Homo sapiens: one gene and its partners. The protein of the gene in region 2 interacts with the protein of the main gene of each other region in a biochemical or structural test. Each region holds a gene or a part of one and is shown on either strand. Other genes may lie near its edges.

Region 1 (4,948 bases), on a different chromosome or scaffold from region 2:
GTCAGACAATTGCAGAGCTGGGAAGTGAAGCCAGGCAGACTCACTTCCAGGCCAGCTTTAACCACTATATTCTGCCTCCTAATAAGCCATAACTGTCAATATTTCATTGCTAACAGTGTTAACCCAGCACACAGCTCTGAAAAGTGCTAAGGGTGGTGCAGGCTTCAACATGAGGGATAAGACACTCCTGGGCTCCACACCCTGGAGCCTCTCATTCTCCTGAGGTTGGTTGGGGTGGCTCTCCAGTTGCCTTGTGGCCTCAGCTCAGAGCACCTCAGAAAGCAGCACCTCCCTTCCCTGTCCCTCCTGAAAAACTGAAAGTCATGGCCCCACCTGGGAGAATTTACAGTCCAGTTATGAGGTTCCATGCCCACTTGGACAGTGAAGAACAAGAGCAGAGGAGTGGAAGGACTGGCTAGAGAAAGACCTGCTTGTGGGGGATAGGAGGGCATTTGGGAATGGTTCTTGTGGTAGATGAAGATGACCAGGCAGTGAACAGTTCCACCTTGCGGTAGCCAAGCTAAGTCCAAAACCGAATATACCCATGAAACCTAAGACAAAAAAGGTAATTCCTGTATGGCTGTTAGCACCCTGTGTGATTATTGATACTCTTGTTAGCCACATCCTGGGCAAATTGGGCTGCTCATCCGTGGCTGAGTTCTGTGGTGCACTTTCCCATGTGTAATACACTGTCTCCTTGGTAAATGCCATAAATACTAAAAATGATTTTGTGAAGAACACAGCGGTCTTGTAGGAGGCCAGATTCCTTACTGAACACTCAGGGACTAATTTTTATAGACACGACCATTCGTATCAAGTAAGACAATAAGAACATAGATAGGACCTAGTTTAGATAAAGATATTGAAAATGCATACAGAGGCTGGGCTTGGTGGCTTATGTCTGTAATCCCAGCACTTTGGGAGGCCAAGGTGGGTGAATCACCTGAGGTCAGGAGTTTGAGGCCAGCCTGGCCAACATGGTGAAACCCTGTCTCTACTAAAAATTCAAAAATTAGCCAGGCGTAGTGGCAGGCACCTGTAGTTCCAGCTACTCAAGAGGCTGAGGCAGGAGAATTGCTCTAACTTGGGAGGCGGAGGTTGCAGTGAGTTGAAATCACGCCACTGCACTCCAGCCTGGGCAACAAGAGCGAAACTCCATCTAGAAAAAAAAAATGCATACAGATAGATTAAATATGGTTGATGCAGCAAATAGTTTGCACCCATTTCTTTAAAAAAATAATAAAAAATACTTATGCTTCTGAAGCTGAGCATACCCATACCATATAACCCAACAGTTCTCCTAGTTAAATAGTCAATAGAAACTGGGTCCACATGAGTGCTAAAGGACAAGTTTGAGAATTTTCCAAGCAACACTATTCATAATAGCCCCAAATTTGAAACGATTCACATGTCTAACAGCAATAGAATAGATAAGTAGTGGGTGTAATTATATGGTATAAAACATCACAGCAACAAGAGTGAAGAAATTACAACTATGCACAGTGACATGAAGGAGACACACACACACACACACACACACACACACACACAGAGAAAAAGGCCATACCTAAGAGTGAAGAGTAAATACTGTGTGATTCCAGTTACATAAAATTAGACAGAATTAATCTACAGTGTTAGCAGTCAGGATCATGGCAGACCTTTGCCGGAAGGTCAGTGACGGAAGGCGGGCACAGGGAGGTTTAGCAGTTCAGGTAATGTCCTCTTCTTTATCCCATGCTGTTTCCTTGGGTGTGCTCTGTATGTGAGAATTCAATCAGCTGTATCGTTACCATTTGTGCTGTATACATGTCATCCTTCAGTAAAGGTTACATAGAAGCCCGCGTAATTGTTTAAAAGATCGGACAATATAAACCTACAGAAAGCATAAGGTAAAAGGCTTCCCCAGTCTTACTTTACAGAGGTAAACACAGTGAACAGCTGGCTGCAAACCTTTCCAGACTTTTTCCGCACACGTAGCATTTCTAAAACCAAATTACTATATCTCAGTGAACTATTGGGACTTCATTGCTTTGTGCTTTCTGCCTTATTTTTACTGTAACAAATCAAGAATTAAAGACATCTTAATGTCAAGGGAAAAATACATTTTTGATATCTGCTAGATCTAGTTCAAACCTTATCTTGTCCATTTACTAGCTTGTATGTTCTTGGACAGGTTAACCCCTGAAAATTCAGTGTCCTCATTTGCAATGTGGGAATAATAGCGCTTGTCTTCAAAGGTTGTGGTGAGGATTAAGATGATATATAGAGAGAGCCTAGTGGTACTATTAAACTATTAAATATTAAAAATATTAATGGTAGCTACTATATATTGAGTGTTTATTACGTGCCAGGCATTGTTCTGAACTCTTTACAAATGCAGTCTCATTTAAGCCTTCCAGCAACCTGATGAGGTTGATGCATTATAAATTTCATTTGATAAATGAAGATACTGAGTCAGAGAGAGTAATTCCCTCAAGGTTTAGTGAGTGTTTAGGCTTTGGGTTATGGGTGGTAGCTGTTGGAGCTATTTAAAAGCACGTAGGGTTCATAGGAGCTTGTTTGGAAACTTTTGAGGAACTCGACGACTTCTTGACGGAGTCTCGCTCTGTCGCCTGGGCTGGAGTGCAGTGGCATGATCTCGGCTCATTGCAACCTCCATCTCCTGGGTTCAAGTGATCCTCCCACCTCAGCCTCCCAAGTAGCTGAGATTACAAGCGTGCGCCATCACACCTGGCTAATTTTTTGTATTTTTAGTAGAGATGGGGTTTCACCATGTTGGTGAACAGGCTGGCCTTGAACTCCTGACTTCAAGTGATCCGCCCATCTCGGCCTCCCAAAGTGCTGGGATTACCGGCATGAGCCACCACGCCTGGCCTCGATGACTTCTTAAGAATTTAGTCAGAGTATTCTATTTGGCTACCTGTTTTATTATATTCCTGTCTGAGAAATGGTGGTCGGTCTTTCAGACTGAGAGAGCAGCACGTCTCTTTGAACTGTCACCCCTTAGCACTAATAACTTCTTTTTGCACCATGCATAGTGTGAAGCTGGATTAAGGTGCAACTTATCTACAAGCATCTACCCTATTTTATTGCCTCATTTCCCTGAGAAAATGGTTATAGACTAACCAAGAACATTTTAAAACAGTGTTATGTTTTCAGGTCACCCTGTGTAAATGCATACAGCTTCTGCAGCCATAATATGGCTGTGAAGTCTGTGCCACAGCCTCGGCTCACAAACATACTGAGTCAGAAGATTCTGACTAAAGAGAGTTCAAATTCCACATGTAAATGGCATCCTACAGAGCTGGGTCCTGCTTTATCCCCAGTTTAGAATCTGTTAAATTTGTACCCAAATACCTTGACACAACTGTTAAATCAGCGGAGATTATGCTTAAAGGCATGTAGCATTGCGATTGAACTTGAATCTCACATTTCTTTATCCCAGTTGTATATAATTATTACTATCGTTATTTAGGCTGTCTCTTTCACTTACTTGCAGGCTTGTCTTAGGCTTGTCTTTCACTTAGTTACACATTTACAATATTTAAAACACAAGAACACATATAAGATTTAACAAAAAATTGGAACATGGAAGAGGAAAGAGAGAGAAGTGCCAGGAACTTTAAATCAGTTGGTTCTGTAATTGCACACTACATTTAGCTGTGAGTTTTCTGGCCAAGGGAAAATAGGACCCACGTCGAGTTATTTAGATATCTTGTTTGGAGTTATTATACTTCTACTGGTTGGACGCAGTGGCTCATGCCTGTGAAACTAGCACTTTGGAAGGCCGAGGTGTGAGGATTGCTTGAGGCCAGGAGTTCAAGACCACCTTGGCCAACACAGTGAGACCCCATCTCTATTTAAAAAAAACAACAAAATTACTTATGCAATGCTTCATTTGCATAGCATTTTCAGGGGTGTTAACCAACATTACAGGGGCTGTATTTTTTTGTTTGTGTTTTGTTTGAGACAGCATCCTGCTCTATTGCCCAAGCTGGAGTGTAGTGGTGCTATCATAGCTAACTGCAGCCTCCACTTCCTCCCAGTTTAAGCGATCCTTCCACCTCAGTCTCCTTGAGTAGCTGGGACTACATGCCTGGCTAATTTTTAATTTCTTGTTCAGACAGGGTCCCACTGTGTTGCCCGGACTAGTTTCAAGATCCTGGGCTTAAGCAGTCTTCCTGCTGTGGCCTCCCAAAGTACTGGGATTATAGGCATGAGCCATCCCTGCCTGGCCTATTTTTTTTTTTTTAAGTCTGTTTTGGTAAGAGATAGAGGAATACTATTCTAATGGATATTCCTTTCAAGGGCTTTGTATGTATTTTATAGGAGTATAAGTTCTGCCCTTGAAGGTGTTTCTGGAGGAGCTGAGATTTTAGGGTCTAATTACTTTTTGTCTACCTGATGACTTTAACTTCATTCAGGGAGAGAGTTTAAGGGGAAAAGATAGTCATAGTCATCATCTCTCTTGGTGTTTCCAAACCTGATGAGCATTAACATTTTCTGGGAAGCTTTAAAAAGGTATGGGTTCTTGGGTTTCACTGTATAGGCTGTCTTTGGTGGATCTGAGATGGGTTGTGGAGCTCTATCTATATTTTGAATCCCTGCCCCCATGGGATCTGATGACCAACCTGTTTGAAAACCATTGCCTCATCCTTGCAAATATCACAGTTGGCTGAGTATTGGTGAGTGGGGTTGATTTCTGGCCTGAGGTTTAGAGCCAACTCCAAGGGGCAAGGTTAACAACGTTCCATAAAGAGTCAGGAAATTGACCTGTAGTCCTGTCCACAAATAAGCCTTCTGAATAGACACGGTTTTTCCCTCAAGAAAAAGAAAAAAATAAAACAAAGCAAAAACCTCTGCCTGAGAACCATTTAAACCATTTGACAAATATTTGGTTAAAACCCCCACCTCTGTCAAAAAGGCAACAGTACTGTTTATTATCCAG
Region 2 (4,948 bases):
TGCTCTTCCAGAGAATAGAAACTCTCCCATCCCTGTTCCTAGTCCTCAGTTCCTCCACCTCAAAGGCATCACTGCTATCAGTGTTTTTAAGTTTCTTTCCAGAAGTGGGATGATATACTTTGAGGTCTTCTATATTTTAAATGAGCTCTGGGAGAGAAGGCCCCCTTTTCTCCAGTGAGATGGAGGTATCTGCTCAGCAGGGTGTGGGTTCTGCCTTCCCTTGGTGGGAGGAAGGGAAGAAGGCACACAGTGTTTTTTTTTTTTTTTTTTGGAGATAGAGTTTTGCTTTTGTCACCCAAGCTGGAGTGCAGTGGCGCAATCTCGGCTCACTGCAACCTCCACCTCCCGGGTTCAAGCAATTCTTCTGCTTCAGCCTCCTGAGTAGCTGGGATTACAGGCATGCGCCACCACGCCTAGCTAAGTTTTTGTATTATTAGTAGAGACAAGGTTTCACCGTGTTGGTCAGGCTGGTCTTGAACTCCTGACCTCAGGTGATCCACCTGCCTCAGCCTCCCAAAGTGCTGGGATTATAGGCATGAGCCACTGTACCTGGCCACATGGTGGTATTATATGTATGTATGAAGATCAAGTAAAATCTTTTTTTTTTTTTTTGAGACAGGGTCTCACTCTGTCACCCAGGCTGGAGAACAGTGGCATAATCACTGCTCACTGCAGCCTCTCTCAAGCTCAAGTGATCCTCCCACCTCAGCCTCCCAAGTAGCTGGGATTACAGGTGTGCACCACCAGGCCCAGTTTATTTTTGTATTTTTTGTAGAGATGGGGTTTCACCATGTTGCCCGGACTGGTCTTGAACTCCTGAGCTCAAGCAGTCCACCCGCCTTGGCCTTCCAAAGTGGTGGGATTACAGGTGTGAGCCACTGCTCCTGGCCATCAAGCAAAATCTTTAAACTTTTAACAAAGCCTAGCTCCCCAGGGCTGTATCAGAGGAAGTGGATTCTTTTAGGTTAGTGAGTCTCAAAGTGTGGTACCTGGACCAGTAGCATCAGTATCACCTGGGGAACTTGGTTAGAAATGCAAATTCTCAAGTCCTAACCCAGACCTACTGAATCAGAAGCTCTGGAGGTTAGGTCCAGCAACCGGTATGTTAAAAGGCTCTCCAGGGGCCTTCTGTTAGTCTGAGAATCAGTGGTTTATCTAGTAGGAACTGACAGGGAAGTCAGCCCGCAGGTAGAAGTTTCATAGTTTCTAGTGAAGTCTCTCAGCCTAAACTCATTTCTTCATCTTCTAGGACTCCTCCTATTTATGGAGCAGGCACCCAACATGGCTGAGCCCCGGGGCCCCGTAGACCATGGAGTCCAGATTCGCTTCATCACAGAGCCAGTGAGTGGTGCAGAGATGGGCACTCTACGTCGAGGTGGACGACGCCCAGCTAAGGATGCAAGAGCCAGTACCTACGGGGTTGCTGTGCGTGTGCAGGGAATCGCTGGGCAGCCCTTTGTGGTGCTCAACAGTGGGGAGAAAGGCGGTGACTCCTTTGGGGTCCAAATCAAGGGGGCCAATGACCAAGGGGCCTCAGGAGCTCTGAGCTCAGATTTGGAACTCCCTGAGAACCCCTACTCTCAGGTCAAGGGATTTCCTGCCCCCTCGCAGAGCAGCACATCTGATGAGGAGCCTGGGGCCTACTGGAATGGAAAGCTACTCCGTTCCCACTCCCAGGCCTCACTGGCAGGCCCTGGCCCAGTGGATCCTAGTAACAGAAGCAACAGCATGCTGGAGCTAGCCCCGAAAGTGGCTTCCCCAGGTAGCACCATTGACACTGCTCCCCTGTCTTCAGTGGACTCACTCATCAACAAGTTTGACAGTCAACTTGGAGGCCAGGCCCGGGGTCGGACTGGCCGCCGAACACGGATGCTACCCCCTGAACAGCGCAAACGGAGCAAGAGCCTGGACAGCCGCCTCCCACGGGACACCTTTGAGGAACGGGAGCGCCAGTCCACCAACCACTGGACCTCTAGCACAAAATATGACAACCATGTGGGCACTTCGAAGCAGCCAGCCCAGAGCCAGAACCTGAGTCCTCTCAGTGGCTTTAGCCGTTCTCGTCAGACTCAGGACTGGGTCCTTCAGAGTTTTGAGGAGCCGCGGAGGAGTGCACAGGACCCCACCATGCTGCAGGTCAGACCCAGCCCCTCCCTGACTTCTAAATGTCAGCCCCTTCTCCCTTCTCATCAGCTTTTACCCACCAGCCATGAGCCTCCTTGCTAATTCAAATAGCCTAGGCAGAAACTCTCTGCCTTTTGTTCTCTACTGTATCTGTCCACAAAATAGGTGATATTCACATGCACAGGATATTTCCATGGGTAAAATTCTAAAGAAAATGGAGCAAGCTATAAAATCACTATTCACAAGTTTGGACCTAGTTGTCATTGCCACAACCATTAACTATGGCTCAGTCACCAGCATTTGCAAGGTCTGCAGAATATGTAAGGCGGGCTTGGAGGATAAGAGCAGTTTCCTTGGTGCTCTTGCCAAAATTCCACACCTTTCTCTCCTACTCAGGAATGTAAGTAAGTGAGGGAGTGACTTTACTTTGAGAGAAACGTAAGTCTGTTTTAAAAGTAAATTATTTATAAACTCTAGCATGTTAACTACCATTAGTGACAAATCACTTGTGGCACAGTTTGCAGCTGGTTGAGATGTTTGTTGAGGAAAATCTGGTTTACAGCAACAGTGCAGAGGTGCATCCTGTGTTGGCCTCTCCCTGGCCTGTTGCTCAGGCCTCCACAGCATGTTTTCCTTGCTGCATTTCAGGATTGTTCATCATGCTTGAAGGGACTTGACCTGAGACTGCCACTTCTCCTCCATCTGAACCCCACGCATGCTTCTGGCCTAATCTTCCTATTTCTTTCTTTCTTTCTTTTTTTTTTCTTTTTCTTTTTTTTTAACAGTTCAAATCAACTCCAGACCTCCTTCGAGACCAGCAGGAGGCAGCCCCACCAGGCAGTGTGGACCATATGAAGGCCACCATCTATGGCATCCTGAGGGAGGGGTGAGTGGGGGCCCCCCCAACAACAGAGGCATACCCCTCCTTCTTTTTCTTCTAGCTTTGTTTCCCATCTTCCCTGATTTTACCCTTTCCTGATCTCTGCTACCTCTTTCCTCCCCTAACCCTTGCTTCTATCCTTTTATCCTCTAGAAGCTCAGAAAGTGAAACCTCTGTGAGGAGGAAGGTTAGTTTGGTGCTGGAGAAGATGCAGCCTCTAGTGGTGAGTGGCCTTCTCTGGATGGGAGCAAGGGTCAAGGTTAGAGCTTTGAGGGCCTCAGGGGATCCAGACTTGGACTCACTCCCTTCCCCCACACCCCCCATATCTCTGGCAGATGGTTTCTTCTGGTTCTACTAAGGCCGTGGCAGGGCAGGGTGAGCTTACCCGAAAAGTGGAGGAGCTACAGCGAAAGCTGGATGAAGAGGTGAAGGTAAGGAAAGGTTAGAGGTGCCGGAGGCATGAAGGAAAACAGGGAAAAAGCCTTGGCCTGGAGATGGGCTGAGCTGACCCTTCTAAGCAATGGAACAAGCATGTTTGTGTCTTATGAGACAAGAGACAAGAATGTGTACTAATTCCAGGAAGGACTTCTGGGGTTCTGTGGGGGTTAGGGAGGCAGAGCACATTAGGAATCTACCTACCTTCCATTCCACTCCCTTTGGGAGTTCCCATCCTGGCTCTGCCCCTTACTAGCTATATAAAACTTAAGAAAATTACTTACATTCTCTGTGCCTCAATTTTTTTTTATCATTATCATAATAATGGCAATAGTAGTAGCTATCATTTATTGAGTATAATTTTGGTAGTATGTACTGTCCTGGGTACTGTAATCATTATAGTTACCCTGTGAATACCTATTCTGGACCCTTTTCTGATGAGAAAACTGAAGATCAGAGAGGCTAAGTAAATTGCCTATGGTAGTAAGTTGCAGAGAGGAATGAAAAAATCCGGGTCAGTCTTATTCTAAAGCCAGTGTACCCTTTTTAAAAACATGTCTTCTGCCTTTCATCATATTGGTTTGTGTGTAGTTGGTGCTCAATAAATGTTGGATTGTAACTTCCCTTGTCTTTTGGAAATCACTGTAGTGTAATGATTAAGTGATTGGCTGTGGAGCCAAACTAACTGGGTTCAAATCCTGGTTCTGTTACTTGTTGGCTGTGTAACTGACCTTGGGCAAGTTCTTTAAATGTTCTAAGCCTCTGTTTCCTAAATTGTAAAGTGGGGATTATGATAGTACTATATTAATTAACTATTGCTGTGTAACAAATTACCCAAAACTCAATAGCTTTAAACAAACATTTCCCAGCCGGGCGCAGTGGCTCACACCTGTAATCCTTTGGGAGGCTGAGGCAGGCAGATCACCTGAGGTTGGGAGTTTGAGACCAGCCTGACCAACATGGAGAAATCCTGTCTCTACTAAAAATACAAAATTAGCCTGGTATGGTGGCACATGCCTGTAATCCCAGCTACTTGGGAGGCTGAGGCAGGAGAATTACTTGCACCCGGGAGGTGGAGGTTGTGGTGAGCTGAGATCCTGCCATTGCACTCCAGCCTGGGCAACAAGAGTGAAACTCTTTCTCAAAAAAAAAGCATTTCCCAGAGTCTGAGGATGAAGAACCTGGGATCAGCTTAACAGGGTAATTGTGGCTCTGAGCCTGTTATAAGGTTCCAGTCCAGCTTCTGGCTGTGGCCAAAAGAAGTAAATTGGAGGATCTGCTTCTAAAATGGCTTACTCAGGGCCAGGCATGGTGGCTTACGCCTATAATCCCAGCACTTTGGGAGGGCAAGGTGGGAGGACCACTTGAACCCAGGAGTTTGAGACCAGCCTGGGCAACATAGTGAGAACCCGCCTCTACAAAAAATTAGCCAGATGTGATGGCATGTGCCTGTAGTTCCAGCTACTTAGGAGACTGAAGTGGGAGGATTTTTTGAGCCCAGGAGGTTAA
Region 3 (4,948 bases), on a different chromosome or scaffold from region 2:
TCTAATATAAAGCCATGGTTGAAAACTACCAGTTTAAATATGTTTTTAAAATAACACAGGAGGGAGTCATTCTTCTAGATATCAAAATATATAAACAAGTTGTAGCAATAAAAATAAAAGCAAAATCCACTGTGAAATTAGAACAGAAACAGACAAATTGATCAGAACAGAGCAGGGAGCCTAAAAAGGTGAGAGAGAGAGAATGTGTGTGTCTGTGTCTCTGTGTGCATATATACGAGTGTGTGGATCTTGACATATGATACAGGTAGCATCACAAACCACTAGGTTATTTAGTAAATGAGATTTGGGAAAATTCGTTTGCCATAGAAGAAAATACAGAAACATAACTTTGTTAACTAGGAATGGAGAAATATTTCCTACACAAGACCCAGAAGGTTAAAAAAAAAAAAAAAAGGTTGGATCATAACAAAATTAAAGATTCCGTTTAATGAAAGATTTCAAAGAAAAAATCTGACAGGTGAAAAACAAAAGATGCGTATACCATTTAAAATCCAACGAGAGACTGAAAAAAGAAGAAAACTGCTATAAATTAGGGCAGAAAAATGGGAAACAGATATGAAAAGCTAACAGAAAAAGAGGCAAAGGATATATAAATGGCGAACTCAACCGAGGAAAAACACACACAGTATACGATAGGATATTCCACTGCATTAGTAATCAGATAGCTGCAAATAAGAACAATAACATATCACTTTGTGCTGGATTGCTCCATCTGTTGCATCAGATTGGAAAAAATTATAAGGTCAGAAAATGCCACATGCCAGCAAGAATGCAGGGAGCAACAGCTGGTGAAAGTGTCAATGAGATAACAATCTGGTCGTACTTAAGGGAATTATGCATATGCCAGAGAGAGGGTCCCCTGGGGGCAAGGAAGAACATGAATGGGGATAGGTGATGAAGGGGAAAGATACAATAAAATAAGGTGGGAGACTCTACACGGACCAATCATGACAGTGTGCCATGAAGTGAGTGCTAACTCCAGTCCGAGCCCCTGAGCTGGGGAGGGAGCGGAGCGGGGCAGCTCCGCGTCACAGGTCCCTTCACCCAACCAGCAGGTATTCAGTCTCTACATACCAGGAACTGCATCCCATCCTAGCGACCGAGTAGCAAAAGATCAAGCCCTTACCCTCATAGGGTTTATGTCCTAGTGAAGGAAACAATAAAAAGGAAACAAATAAGATAATGATAAGAGAGTGTTAACAGCTAACAAGTAAGACAGTGATAGTGACAGAAAGTGATGGAAAGAGGGTTTCACTAATGAAAGGATAGCCAGAGGTGAGATCCCGCAGGTCTGCAGAAAGAAAATGAACCAGGCATTCAGCAAGCCGAGAGATGAGATCCCAAAGAATTGCGTTCAAGGGCTGGGCGTGGTGGCTCACGCCTGTAATACCAGCACTTTGGGAGGCCGAGGCGGGCGGATCATGAGATCAGGAGATCCAGACAATCCTGGCTAACACAGTGAAACCCTGTCTCTACTAAAAATACAAAAAAATTAGCCGGGTGCCTGTAGTCCAGTTTAAATATGTTTTAAACTGGAGGCTGAGGCAGGAGAATGGCGTGAAGCCGGGAGGTGGAACCTGCAGTGAGCTGAGATCACACCACTGCACTCCAGCCTGGGGGACAGAGCAAGACTCCGTCTCGAGAAGAACTGCGTTCAAGGTCATCAAATACAAAGTTGTCATAGTACAGGCGACAGTGTGTTCTAAAGATGACTTTCAGGTACTTCCTGTCATTCAGCTCCCAGAAGCAACCTTCAAAATACCTGTTATATAAAATGTAAACTATAAGGGTTATTGTGAGAGTCCAACATACGGTGATTAAAGAATGCAAACTTTTTGAAGGGGAAGAGGGAGGAGGCAGCATCGATATGAATGTGCTATGCCTCTAAAAAATGTTTCTGGAAAATTACTAGGATCCACAAACTTTTCCTTCACTCCTTAAAAAGTAATTGAGTAATCATATTTTTTCCCCAGCACAGTGCCAGGAAATGAGGTTAAGTATTAAATTTTCTGTCTTTGCTTCAATTGTATAAGATGCAGGATCCTATTTATTTTATATACGTACTGTTTTTATGGATAAAAGAAAACATTTATTGCATGCTTGCAATCTGCAAGGCCCTGTTCCCTGAGCTTCTACACATTGGAGCCCACTTACATTCACAACAAAATACTATATTATTTCCACTTTAGAGACGGAACAACAGAGGTTAAGAAACTTGCCTAAAGTCAAAGTACTAGAAAGCAGCAGAGCAGAGATTCAAACCCAGGTCTTTCAAAGTGTTAACCACTACACTTACGTTTCCCCCTAGAGTGGCTGGCCCCTGCAGTGGCTGTAGCACATGGCCTTAGAACTTATTAGAAATGCAAATCGCCAGGACCTCCCCTCCCAGACCGACTGATCAGAAATTCTGGGGCTGGAAGGCAGCTGCCTAAGGTTTCACAAGCCCTCCGTGTGATCCCAAGGTATGCTAAAGTTTGAGAACCACTGGTAGAAATTTTTCATACTAAGCATAATGTGAAAGGTGAAATTACTACCATTTTGAAACTTCTAAAATATAAAATTTGTATCCTATTTAAAATGACTATGAAGAAACGAAAACAGTGTTAGTTCATTTCCTCACTGCTCAACTTCTTTCTCCCAAACTTGACAAAATGCCTAATCTCTATCCTGATTATACTATGTACAAAAAGGGTACTCTGATGAGCGTTAGAGCACAGAGGTCTGAACTCACTCTTCAGAAGTAATCAGAAGCCATAATAGGAAGAGAAAAAAACAATATTTTGAATATCAGCAGAAGCTTGATAAATCTTGGGCCATAACTCCAAATTTTGATCCCAGGCTCAACTCCAAATTTTTACAACATGACTTCAACAGTCTTCCCAATGCCAAAAAAAGAAGTTACAACCCCGAGAAATATTTGATTAACAAGATTCAAACTGCTTTAAGTGCACATACAGAGAAACTGTCCAAGAGTGTGTTTTTATCAGGAGTGAAGCTAAGGAATGCCTAATTACACATCAGACCCTCTGACAATATTCACAGCAAAAGGGGTTAACGTTATCCCTGTCCCTGCACACACCTGCCGTGTACGGCATCCTACCTGATCCTTCTCTTTTCAAAGCTATATCTAGACCGGGAGACTTTTCTCCCCAACTCAAGTACTCAATTTGAGCAGTACAGCTCTATGTGTATTCAAGTTTGCCTATTTCTAATAAGGCCTTTTTTTGTTGTTAAAGGGATGGAAGAAAGAGTATGAGAAATAAGTATATTCAAGCACCTACCATAATCTGAAATCTTCCATAAGCCAAATAACTCTCTGAAGCTATTCACTCGCATACTCAAGTCATTAATTTTATAAATTTCAGGTTTCTACTTATTCCAAAAATTTAAAACATAAAATTGAAGATTAAGGAGTACTTAGTCCAAGCTTGGACCACAGGAGAGCTATAAACCTGTCTTAAAATGCTTAATGACCTGATTAAGGTCATCAAAGGTAAAGAAAACTCTAGGAAGCAGCCTTTTAATCTGCCTGGCTACTTACAACCACCCACCTTTTCCATGCCCACGCTCTCCTAAGGGCTGAAGGCACTGCCAAGAATGACCTTCCTAGAAGGGCTGAATCCTATTTATTTTCTCTCTCCCAAATCTCCACCAAATCCCCTAAGAACTGGCAGTGTTCTGGTAAGAAACAATTTACTATTGCTCTCCTCCCCACCCACAGTTCAGTGCAACTGAAGTGAACACACACACACCCCAACCACTGAAAGACTTTCTCACTTAGATTCCTATCCTGCATTTTCAAAGTCCAAAGTTGTCTTCAAAATATCTTGCAAAATGCAGTCGTACCAGCTAGTCTTTAATCTCCACTAACATTGCCAGTTCTATACCCAAAATGGATATCGCAACTGCTATGTATTTTCATCTCCCTTCTCTAACAATCAGTAACAAGCAACCCAATCAGTAATAAACAAGCCTGACAAATAGCTCCTAAATTCACAGAGAAAAGAATGGTCTCCTCTCTTTCATAAGTAAAGCAAGCTGATAATGTTCTAGTAAATAGAAAGACTAAATGCCTCTTCAAGAAAAAAACATTTATATGCCTGGAAAAAACATCTTGGGTTTTTTTGTTTTTGTTTTTTTACTTAAGTATCTGTTCATAGTAGGTAGCAAATAATCTTTCCACACATATGCACTTTACCAGTTCTTTTAAAGACTCAGTAATCTAAGAAAGCAAAGCATAAGACTATGCTGAAAGAGCTAAGCCGCAGTTTACATAAAATTTAAACAAAACACAAGACATTAAAAAAATTCAACTACTCATAAATAAAGACCAATAAATCTACACTTTGGTCTGGGTTTCTGAACACAGGAAGAATCAGAGGGTTCAATAGGAGAGGTTATTTCTGAAATCGTAGGCATACCTTGAAGATATCACATGTTCCATTCCAGACCACCTTAGTAAAACTAACACTGCAATAAGGTAACAGAAATGTTTCTGCTTTCCAAGTGCATATAGAAGTTATATTTACAGTATACTGTAGTCTATTATGTTGGCAATAGCATTAGCTCTTAATTTTAAAATGCTTTATAATTTTTTTAAAATGCTAGTGATCATCCGAGCCTTCAGGGAGTCATAATCTTTTTGCTGGTGGAGGATTTTGCCTTGATGTTGATGGCTGCTGACTGAACAAGGTGCTGGCTGCTGAAAGATGGATGGCTGTGGCAATTTCTTAAAATAAGAAAACAATAAGGCCGGGCGCTGTGGCTCACGCCTGTAATCCTAACACTTTGGGAGGCTGAGGTGGGTGGACTGCGTGAGCTCAGGAGTTCAAGACCAGCCTGGTCAACAGAGTGAAACCCCATCTCTACTAAAATATAAAAAATTAGCCAGCTGTGGCAGTGTGCACCTGTAATCCCAGCTACTCAG
Region 4 (4,948 bases), on a different chromosome or scaffold from region 2:
CCCAAAGTGTTGGGATCACAGGTGAGAGGTGCCACGCCTGGCCTATCAAACTTTTTGATGTTTGCCAGTCTGACAGGTGGAAAACGCTATGTCCCTGTTGTATTACTTCACATGGATTTAATTACAAACGAAGCATGCTGACTGACCTGCTCATATTCCGTGTGTTTGTACCCTTTCACCATTTTTTCCATTGGTTGAATTCTCTAATTTTGGGGTCTGGACACTCCCACTGAGGGTCCAGTCCTGTGCCATCCACTGTGCCGAAGGTGGCCATACTCACTCCCAACTGCAGCCGCCTCCACCCCGCAAGGACAGAGTTGCTAGCTTCGACAGAGACCCTCTGGCTCACAAGGCCTAAAATATTTACTATTTGGAGCTTTCGAGAAAAAGTGTGCCAGTTCCCATGTCTCATTGGTTTACAAGAGTTCTTAGTAAATTAAGGAAATAGCTCTTTGCCACATATACTCTGTTTTGCATTTAGCTCATCTCTCTCTGTTCTCCCTCCTGGCCTCTGAATAAGCAAGTCAGAAGTAAAACTTAAAAGCAGAAGCCTGCAGAACCCCTTGACACATTTGGTGCGTTTGGAAACACTTTGGTCTATGCTAATCTAGGGGTGGTATCATTATTATTATTAATTTGTGATAGAGTCTTGCTCTGTTGGCCAGGCTGGAGTACAGTGGCACAATCGTGGCTCACTGCAACCTCTACTTCCCGGGTTCAAGTGATTCTCCCGCCTCAGCTTCCCGAGTAGCTGGGATTACAGGTGCTCACCCCCATGCCTGGCTAATTTTTGTACTTTTAGTAGAGACGGGGTTTTGCCATATCTCAAACTCCTGACCTCAGATGATCTGCCCGCCTCGGCCTCCCAAAGTGCTGGGATTACAGGTGTGACCCACTGTGCCCAGCTAGGGGTGGTAATTTTATACCCATTTTACACGTGCAGCAATTGAGGCTCAAAATCATCATGTGACTTTGTTGGGGTCACCGAGATTGCAGGCAGTGGAGCCGGAATGGGCACCTTGTCTGTCAGGCTCTAAGTCTGTAGATCTCTCCAGAAAGCAGGTTTGCCTTTTTTTTTTTTTTTTTTTGAGACAGGTTCTTACTCTGCTGCCCATGCTGGAGTGCAGTGGTGCAATCACGGCTCCCTGCAGCCTCAACTTCCTGGGCTCTAGCAATCCTCCCACCTCAGCCTCCTGAGTAGCTGGAACCACAGGCGCATACCTCCATACCTGCCTCATTTTTAAATTTTTTGTAGAGATGGGGTCTCGCTATGTTGCCCAGGCTGGTCTCGAACTCCTGAGTTCAAGCAATCCTCCGCTTTGGCCTCCCAAAGTGCTGGAGTGCTGGGATTATAGGCATGAGCCCTCGTGCCTGGCTTTTTATTTTTTTTTAATCTTGCCTCTTAAGGAATGAGGCCAGTCCCAGGGGACGGCAGAAATCATAACCAGCATTGTCCTGGCAGGTGTTGCCTTTGATACCACCATGACCGAGGACATGGCATGGGGCAGCCCCCATTCTGCTGCTGTGATACTTGGGTATAAAGACAGCAAATTCCTCAGTTGCAGAGGGGCAGGAAGGAAGATGACATGCTAGACACAGAAACCACACAAAGGAGGATGGAGCCCTGTTTGTGAGCATGGATACTACACATGCCCCTCTCTGGCTCTCACACTTGCAAGAATAATGCCCACTAAGGAATGGCCCCGGCTGGGCCAGGAGGAACCCAGCACTTTGGAGGAATGACTGTGCTTGGAGTAGCAGGACAGGGGAAGAAGAAGTGACAGCCACACAGATGGGACTGGAAGGACTTTTATCACCCTCTGGCTCTCGGCCACCAACACCTATTACAGAAATGTGACAGCAACCATTATAATCTCTGAGCCCTTGAACAAATCACAACCCAAAAGGTTACCCTCCCGAAAATAATCACCCCATTAAAACCACTGACCCAGAGAGCGGCAGTCCCTCAAGGAGAGAACGCAGACAAGGCATGGGGCGTGTTCTTTGTATGGAGCGTGCAGTGCCCTGGCCGTGATTTTCTTATGTGGCCTGCCACAGGAAGAGGCTGGCATCTGGAATCTGTGCCTTCTAATTTTTATTCTTTTCTTTTTTTTTTTTTTTTTGAGTCGGAGTCTCGCTCTGTTGCCCAGGCTGGAGTGCAGTGGCACGATCTCGGCTCGCTGCAAACTCCGCCTCCGTGGTTCAAGCAATACCCCTGCCTCAGCCTCCCGAATAGCTAGGATTACAGGCGCCCGCCACCACCCTGGCATAATTTTTTTTGTATTTTTAGTAGAGACAGAGTTTCACCATGTTGGCCAGGCTGGTCTCGAACTCCTGAACACAGGCAATCTGCCCACCTCGGCCTCCCAAAGTGCTGGGATTACAGGCGTGAGCCACCACGCCCAGCTGCCTTCTAATTTTTCTTTGGCAGAAGAGCATGTTTAAGGGGCTCCCTCGAAGGTTCTCTTTTCCTTCTCTTTTTGTTTCTGTATTTCAATCAATCGATCAAAATATTTCCTTTCTTTTTTTCGTTTTTTTTTGTTTGAGACAGGGTCTCGCTCTGTCGCCCAAGTTGGAGCGCAGTGGTGTGATCTCGGCTCACTGCAACTTCTGCATCCCAGACCCAAATGATCCTCCTGCCTCAGCTTCCCAAGTAAGGAGAGACCCCTATGCCTGGCTAATTTTTTAGTATTTTTTTTGTAGAGACATGGTCTCATCACGTTGCCCAGGCTGGCTGGTCTGGAACTCCTGGACTCAAGCGATCCTCCTCCTTGGCCTCCCGAAGTGCTGGGATTACAGCCATGAGCCACCGTGCCCAGCCAATCAAGCTATTTTCTAGACTGATTGGGTACTGCCACCACCAAGAGTGAGGGTTTTTCTACAGGGTAGATTGACGGAGCATCAGCTCGGTCTGTGATTTCCTTGGGCCTCATAATTCCCCCGTAAGATTGAGATTGCAGATAAGGAATCTGAGGTTGCACCAGAAAAAAGTAACGAGGTCCATCCAGCTGGTGTTTGCGGGGATACCGGCACTGCAGCCCTGGGTCTGGACTCCAGGGTCCAACCTCTGATCTGCTCCAGACCTTAGTCATCACGGCAAAGGTAGTCCTAGCTCATATGCCGCATTTTCTCATTTTATGCTTGGTGTAACTGACAATACTGAAAATAACCAGTATTGATATCCTGATTTCATTAGAGAAATGACTCTCAGAGAGCTTAGGTGACGGGAAGCCTGTCTAAGGTCACACGGCTAGCACAGATCAGTAGTCATGCCTCAAACCCATGCCTTCATGGGCTCCAACCCAAAAGACGGAATGCTGCTGGAGGCGCTGCCTGCAAAGCAGATAGTGCAGGGCCTGGCCAAGAGGGAATGGAAAGTGTTTTTTTGTTTTTTTTGTTTTTTTTTTTTTTTTCCTTTTTTGGAGACAGAGTCTCACTCTGTTGCCCAGGCTAGAGTGCAGTGGGGCAATCTCAGCTCACTGCAACCTCTGCCTCCTAGGTTCATGCGATTCTCCTGCCTCAGCATCCCGAGTAGCTGGAATTACAGGCGCCTGCCCAATTTTTGTATTTTTAGTAGAGATGGGGTTTCACCATGGTGCCCAGGCTGGTCTCAGACTCCTGACCTCAAGCGATCCGCCTGCCTCCGCCTCCCAAAGTGCTGGGATTACAGGTGTGAGCCACCGTGCCTAAAGGCGGTTTTTAAAATGGATTCGAAGAGGCTCCATTTTTCAGCATTTGACACGCCTTTTCATCATCATCATCTGAAAATCGGGACCCTATTTGGCCTTTCATGCCCGACATGCTATGAGGAGCTACAATCACAAGTGCGTCTTCAACTCCACGGCCTCTGCCAGCCACCACCAAGCCACAGTCACACAGCCCCTCAGTCCCAGGAAGCAAGCCTTTTATCGGAAGGGTCCAGAATCACTGCATAGGATAAAGAAGTCCAGACACTGCCCCTCTTTTTTTTTTTTTTTTTTTTTTTGATACAGGGCCTTGCTCTGTAGCCCAAGCTGGACTGCAGTGGCGCCATCTTAGCTCACGGCAACTTCCGCATCCCAGGCTCAAATGATCCTCCTGCCTCAGCCTCCCAAGTAGCTGGGACTACAGCTGCACACCACCATGTCTGGCTAATTTTTTGGTATTTTTTGTAGAGACAAGGTCCCGCCATGTTGCCCAGGCTGGTCTCGAACCCCTGGACTCCTAGAACCTGGGCGCCCTCTTGTGACCCTGCCAACCCCTTCCTAGTACAGTGTCCACAGGTGGCTGTCCTGTCCCATCTCCCAGCTCCACACCCCCTTTTGGTGGGGATGCCCTTCCTCCCTGAGATTTTCAGCACCATCTCGGCCTGGAACCTTCCAGGAATCCCTGGACCTTCTGAGTCCTACCATCACCCAAGCTCACTCCCTGCTGCCCTTCCCACTCCTCCTAATTCTTTACCATCTCATGTGTGTCTCAGCCACACTCTGACCACGGTATACACAGACTGTGTGATGAACCTACTCAGGGTGGAGCGCTGCTTCTCACATCCCTCCTGAGCCCCCTGCGGCACCAAGTACAAAGCCACTCACACACGCCCACTGATGGATTTAAACAAGCGTGTCATCTTTAGAAGAGCTTGGTTTAGAAGTCTTTTTTTTGAGACAGAGTCACGCTCTGTCACCCAGGCTGGAGTGCAGTGGTACGATCTCAGCTCACTGCAACCTCCGCCTCCCCAGTTCAAACGGATTCTCCTGCCTCAGCCTCCTAAGTAGCTGGGACTACAGGTGTGCGCCACCACGCCGGGCTAATTTTTTGTGGGTATTTTTAGTAGAGATAGTGTTTCTCCACTTTAGCTAGGCTGGTCTGGAACTCCTGTCCTCGGGTGATCTGCCCGCCTTGGCCTCCCAAAGTGCTGGGATTACAGGCATGAGCCACCGCGCCCGTCCAGAAGTCATTTTTTAAAATC

The links. Proteins that work in one complex are often made in the same cells at the same time.
Region 1: the proteins of CGN (region 2) and PDLIM1 interact in a test that uses a peptide from one of them, tested with the Homo sapiens proteins (one large-scale study listed by IntAct).
Region 3: the proteins of CGN (region 2) and MPP7 interact in a test that uses a peptide from one of them, tested with the Homo sapiens proteins (one large-scale study listed by IntAct).
Region 4: the proteins of CGN (region 2) and CARD11 interact in a test that uses a peptide from one of them, tested with the Homo sapiens proteins (one large-scale study listed by IntAct).

Annotation. Positions count from the first base shown.
Region 1 is NC_000010.11:95,280,585-95,285,532, reverse strand, and holds part of PDLIM1 (PDZ and LIM domain protein 1), read left to right. Parts: intron 1-4,948. UniProt on the Homo sapiens protein: Cytoskeletal protein that may act as an adapter that brings other proteins (like kinases) to the cytoskeleton. Involved in assembly, disassembly and directioning of stress fibers in fibroblasts.
Region 2 is NC_000001.11:151,517,257-151,522,204, forward strand, and holds part of CGN (cingulin), read left to right. Parts: intron 1-1,249; 5' UTR 1,250-1,263; coding exon 1,264-2,136; intron 2,137-2,909; coding exon 2,910-3,010; intron 3,011-3,157; coding exon 3,158-3,227; intron 3,228-3,339; coding exon 3,340-3,435; intron 3,436-4,948. UniProt on the Homo sapiens protein: Probably plays a role in the formation and regulation of the tight junction (TJ) paracellular permeability barrier.
Region 3 is NC_000010.11:28,292,646-28,297,593, forward strand, and holds part of MPP7 (MAGUK p55 subfamily member 7), read right to left. Parts: intron 1-4,948. UniProt on the Homo sapiens protein: Acts as an important adapter that promotes epithelial cell polarity and tight junction formation via its interaction with DLG1. Involved in the assembly of protein complexes at sites of cell-cell contact.
Region 4 is NC_000007.14:3,036,949-3,041,896, forward strand, and holds part of CARD11 (caspase recruitment domain-containing protein 11), read right to left. Parts: intron 1-4,948. UniProt on the Homo sapiens protein: Adapter protein that plays a key role in adaptive immune response by transducing the activation of NF-kappa-B downstream of T-cell receptor (TCR) and B-cell receptor (BCR) engagement.